Regions from separate parts of the Homo sapiens genome. Here region 2 is linked to region 1. The links come from fine-mapping of genetic effects on gene expression. A gene starts in region 1. The other region holds a variant in brackets. All regions are shown on one strand. Distances are between the middles of the regions. Region 1 holds the start of XXYLT1-AS2 (XXYLT1 antisense RNA 2). Region 2 overlaps XXYLT1 (xyloside xylosyltransferase 1).

Region 1 (2,911 bases):
ACATATACAAAAGTAGAAAGCATCATGTAATATTTCTGGATGCCCCAATATTATAATATCCATGCAGCCTCAATAACTATCAGCCCTTAGCCAATCTTTGTTTTATGTCTCCTCCCACCCACTTTTCCTCTTCCCCTGATTATTTTGAAACGAATCTCAGTCGTCACAGCATTTCGTCTGTAAATGTCATTTTCAGTCTATTAGTTTCTTAAAAACACATCTGCTGTGGCCGAGTTTAGAGCTGAGGAGAGTTATATGAGCTCATAGTGTCACTCTGTCTTCAAGTTCCTCAGTCTGAAATCAGTTGGTACAAGGGAAGAAAATAGAGAGAGGCAGCACTAACCTCTAGCCAAGCACACTTTCCATCTCTCTGCAGATTGCCTCATGTCAGGATGTTAGCGTGACCGTCACGTCTGGAAGGCTTTATGGCTGATATAAATTCAGGTCCGTTGTTCACTAGGCATGAAGCCCTCCGTTGTAAGGGAACCAGCCATCACCCTCATTACGAGATGCATAAATGTAGGACTTGAAGATAAAAGCTATTGGGTTCTTTTCGTCTCTCTGACACCTGAAGATGAATTTCTTGAACCTTGTTCTCGTGTTTAAAAAAAAAAAATTAACCAAGATTGAGCCTGTCAGTTTCTATCAGAGTTAAATCTGAGTAAAGGAGAAAAAAGCTTGCCACCTTTTAAAATAGTGATTCCTTCACTCCCTGGGAGTTAGAAAACTGGGCTAAGTGTTTTTGTGTAGCCCGTGTGACCTGGAGGCCGTGCTATAACCCCTGCAGGAATTACTCATAAAAAGGGAGGGATGTACCTGCCCTGTGGTAGAGATCAGAAGTCTACTCTGAGGTTGTTATTTTTAAATAACATCAGTGGAAAAGGTATTTTAAAAGGAAAACTCTGTACAGAGAACCCAAGCGGGATTGTGTTGCTGTCATTGTGACCGTCTCTTACCTGATGGCTCTGCCTCCCGGGCAGGCTAGGAGCTCCGGGATGACGTCCCAAGACTCGGGCGCATAGCGGGGGCTGCTGAAGATCGGAGTGTGAGGCTGAGAGATGAGGTCCAGGTGGAGCACGTGAAAAGCTTCCTGTGTCTGAAAACACGACTCCTTCCAGTTCTTTTGTCTGTCTGCACATTATGAGTATTTTGGTACTACTGAATCCGTTTTTAAAAGTTCACCACGTCGTGCCTGACACAGGTGTCTCCTGAAAGAATGAGTGAGGAAGTGAATGCGTGGAAGGGGTGGGACTGGGAGGCAGCCCTTCTGTTCTGTTTATGCCGTGCAGACCAATGCCAGGCACTTCGATGTTTGTTGAGTGAATGCAGGAACAGATGTGTAGTCAGAGGGCGTTTCCTCCGCGGTGCTGGCCAGCTGCTAAGTCAGGCTCTGTAGTCCCATTACTGGTCTTAGAGAAGTTACTTTCACATTCAGTTTTTGTTTGTAAAGACAGTCCATGGGAAAGTTTGTTATTCTCAGTTTGTTTGTTTGAGACATAGTTTCTTTCTTGTCGCCCAGGCTGGAGTGCAGTGGTGTGATCTTGGCTCACTGCAACCTCCGCCTCCCGGGTTCAAGCGATTCTCCTGCCTCAGCCTCCCAAGTAGCTGAGATTACAGGCGCTGACCACCATGCCTGGCTAATTTTTGTATTTTTAGTAGAGACAGGGTTTCATCATGTTGGCCAGGCTGGTCTCGAACTCCTGACCTCAGGTGATCCACCTGCCTGGGCTTCCCAAAGTGCTGGGATTACAGGTGTGAGTCACCATGCCCAGCCTATTCTCAGTTTTTTATTTGGCTCATTGTGTGTGTGAGCCATAGGATTGGTCCCATGAGGAATTACGAAGTAGAAGACATGCCTCTTGCTTTCAAGGAAGATATAACGTGAGGGAGATAGGGTAGATAAAACTTAATGAAAACGCAAATGCCTGCGGTGTCAACACTGAGTCAGTACTGCTGTTTAGAGATATCCCATGGACAAGATACATAGACTTTTTGCTGTAGGAACTGTAAATTTTACTGAGTGGCTCACCTCTCCCTCAGCTTAATATTCTGCCTTCAGCTGGGCATGGTAGCCTGCACCTGTAGTTCCAGCTACTTGGAAGGCTGAGGCAGGGGGGTCACTTAAGCCCAGGAATTCTGTGGGTGTCTGCACTAAGTTTGGCATCAACTTGGTGACCTCCTGGGAACGGGGGACCACCAAGTTGCCTAGGAAGGGATGAAGCAGCCCAGGCTGGAAATGAAGCAGGTTAAAACTCCTGTGCTGATTAGTAATGGGATTACGCCTGTGACTAGCCATGCACTCCAGCCTGGGCAACATAGCGAGACCCTGTCTCTAAAAAAAGAAACCAAACAAACAAAAATGGAGTTCTGCCTTCAAAATGCTAAGAAGTGGGTATCACATTCCCTTCTTTCCTCTGAAAAGTCTCTCGGAGTGGTGTTTGGCTTTGCAATGCAGGCGTAGCCTCTAAGAGTGCTCTTGGGATAGACCAAACTCTGTGCCCGAATAGAAAGCTCACTGGGCAGGCATTTGCCGAGGGTTTGGCTATGCAGTAGAGAGAAACCAGACCCTGTCCTCCAGGAGCTTGCAGTGGGACGTGGGTCTGGACAGGGCTACAGTGGAGGCACAGCGGCGGATGATGGGCCCGCAGGACTGTGTGCTTTGTTGCATTGCTGCAATCTGTTTCCTATGCCAAATAAACATCATCGCATTGAAAGAACCTTATTTGTAATCCAGGCAGCAGAAAGGCTTATCTGTAAGCATCTTCCTGGGGAAAAAAAGCAAAATAGCACAGTTGAATCCCAGTGGCATGTGTACAAGAGGGACCTTCTGTAACAAACCACGTGTGGAAAGGACTGAGCTGAGCGTGACCAGCCCCACATGAAGGGAATTTCTATATGGCTCCATGGCCAT
Region 2 (2,911 bases), 33 kb before region 1:
CTTGGGCCCAAGACTTCTCCTCTGAAATGAGGGTGAGAGGATCCAGCACATGGCTGGATACATTATCCATGGAAATACACCTATCTCGAGGGTTGTTGTGAGCACCAAGTGAGCTTATATACAGGAACAGCTTCCAACAGTACCTGGCACACAGTAAGCACTCAAGCAGTGTTACCTGCTCACACCATGATTGTGGATATCTATTATCATCCACTTCCTCAGTCCCCTGTCACAGCCCTCAGAGAATTTGAGGTGTTCACTAAAATGACACAAAGGTGAAAAAACAAAACCAAGTAGACACTCAGGGCCAGGGGGTAAATGTGTAGAAGATGAAAGTGTAGACCTCATAGAAAAAGACATAAAGGCACGCCTGGTGGCAAAACATGCTCCGCAGCCCCGCAGCCCCGCAGCCACGCAGCCACGCAGCCACGCAGATACACAGCCAGTGTGAAAAGGGAGATTGTCATCCTTTATGGAGCCGTCATTGTCAGAGAGAAGGAAGCAAGTCAGTCCTCAGGGGAAGCAAGTCAGTCCTCAGGAGAAGCACAGTGTTCTCAAGCACCGACTTCTCAAATAAATTACCTTTATTTCTCTTTTTAGAACATGTTCTCTAAGTGCTACACACCTGGCCGCAGGTGGGCCCCATCAAAGGCTCAGATGCTCCGGCCTTGTCTTTCCCTCTCACGGCCTGGAGTCACCACCCTTTAGCCCTTTGTCTGAACTGAATTCCTTGAAATCAGTTGGGCATTTTATATTTTGGTTTGTGGTCAAACCTCATTAGCCAAGAAGGGATGAACCATACCACTTACTTTTGTATAGCTAAAGGTCTGGGCGACAGTGGCCTTGAGGACCCCTCACGAGCAAAGTCCTGAGGCAGGACTAGGGACAGGCCTTGGAGCTTCTCCCGAGGAGGGCCGGCGCTGCCCTTGCTCCTGGCGAGCAGGTGTGTGCTTGCAGGGGTGGGGGCAGTGGGCAGGCGCCTTTCCCGTCTGCTTGTGTGTGTCCAGAGCTGTCAGACCCATGTTCCTGGTCACGTTTGCAGTGGCACGGGGTGCTCCAGCCACCGCCGTCTGGTGCTCTTAGCCAGACGGGGCCACATCACGCTCTGGAGAGGGCTGGGAA[G/A]GGCCTTAGGGTCTGGCCTCAGATGCTGACCCTTATCTGTTTGTTTGCTTCTTTTCAAGGGCTACAGAGCCAGGAAGAGGAGCATAGAAAGAAAAAGGAACAGGAAATTGTTCAAAAGAAGTTCATGAAATGAGAAAAGCAGCAGGAAACAGCTCGGGAATCGGCGAGGCTGCAGCCGAAGGAAGTGTGTCTTGAGGGCCAGGCGGGCCAGGGGGATAAACCATCCAGACCTTTGTGGCTCCTTCCTTCTGGGCCCTCATGAGTTGGGTCCCCAGGATGGAAGGGACCTTTCCTGTAACTGGGGGACCGAGTGTGCCACTCACCACCCCCGGTGTCAGTGCAGAGACGGGGATCTGGCGTTAGAAATGACTGTGCATAAGCCAGACCACCCCAGGCCTGCTACACAGCTGCCTCCCTCCCTGCCCCTCTTGTTTGCTCCCCTCCTTCCATGACGGGTCAGCGGTGCTCTGCCAGAACCCCACTGCTTGGGGCCGCTCAGAGATTCTTCTGTCCCTCACCAGGCGCTCCGTCACTCAGCCGCACCCTGGCCCGACTCTGCCTGCAGTGTGGAGTCCCGGCCTGGAGCCTGCCTGTGTTGGGGGAGACAGTGGGAGGGAGAGGAGGAAGCAAAGGCCCGAGGGATCACGGGGAGGCATCCTCAGGGGCCCACGCATCAGTCACAGCATGGGCGACGCAGGGCAGGTTTCCTGGCTCAACACCACACTTAGGAAATCCTTTGTTAATTGTGACTCGTTTTTAAATTTGTCCCACATCTCTACGGCTGCAAGTGGAATCTGGAAAATCACCTTTTTTGTGCTTTTCTCATGGGCAGGATGAAATTGAGTTCCCAGTTAGAAACTGCTTACCTCTCGGTGTGGGCTGTTTGCCTCCGGTTTGTTTCTGTTTTTGGGGTTTTTCTGTTGGAATTGACTAGTGGACTTACAAGCTGACGGTGTCCATTCTGGGGCCAATGTCTCCTCAGCATTCCTCCTCCACACACGCAGGCCTCTTCAGCCGACTGATTCTTTGGCCAGTGTTCAAGTTGAGTGTAAATAGGACGTGACTGAAAACCAGTTCTTGAGCTTCCATATCCTTTTCTGGTCAGAGTATTGAACACTGCAGTTTTTAGTGGAGTTAAGGGAGTTGTTGAATTGGGTCAGAGTGTTTTGGGGCTGGAAAAACTCTGAGGTACGATCCCATCATGAGTTCTTTTTTTTTTTTTCTTTTTTTTTTTGAGACGGTGTCTCACTCTTGTCGCCCAGGCTGGAGTGCAGTGGCGCGATCTCGGCTCACTGCAACCTCTGACTCCCTGGTTCAAGCAATTCTCCTGCCTCAGCCTTCCGAGTGGCTGGGATTACAGGCACGTGCCACCATGCCCAGCTAATTTTTGTATTTTTAGTAGAGACGGGGTTTCACCATATTGCCCAAGATGGTCTTGATCTCCTGACCTCATGATCCGCCCGCCTCGGCCTCCCAAAGTGCTGGGATTACAGGCGTGAGCCACCGCGCCCGGCCCCATCATGAGTTCTTGAATCTCCTCCATGGCCTCCCTGGAGTGTGGAGTTGTCCAGTGGAAACTACGTGAAGGCCCAGGGACAGGGAGCTGCCACCTTCAGAGTAGCCTCTTCCATCTTCAGACATATTTTAGAAAACTCTTTCTTATGTTTTCCAAAACCTGCTTTTATCTCTTGATGCTTCAGCTCTCGATCTCAATGAAGAAGCCTATTTCCTTTCTTTTACAAATTCAGAGAGAGCCTTCCATCAGGGGAAACAGTCCCGGCTTCCCCAT

The links.
Region 2: its variant is fine-mapped to the expression of XXYLT1-AS2 in transverse colon (GTEx, PIP above 0.99).

The regions. Positions count from the first base shown.
Region 1 is chr3:195,146,151-195,149,061 of GRCh38, reverse strand. XXYLT1-AS2 (XXYLT1 antisense RNA 2) reads right to left here and starts at 1,191. Exons shown (of 2, transcript NR_102711.1): 1 at 957-1,191. The region is part of intron 3 of XXYLT1 (xyloside xylosyltransferase 1); the gene reads left to right. It also overlaps the pseudogene RN7SL36P. RefSeq lists enhancers at 1,074-1,123, 1,364-1,473.
Region 2 is chr3:195,178,786-195,181,696 of GRCh38, reverse strand. The region is part of intron 2 of XXYLT1 (xyloside xylosyltransferase 1); the gene reads left to right. Among named protein-coding and RNA genes, the nearest start is that of XXYLT1-AS2, 32 kb to the right of the region's middle. RefSeq lists enhancers at 484-1,061, 1,062-1,639. The variant G/A (reference allele first, on the strand shown) is at 1,123.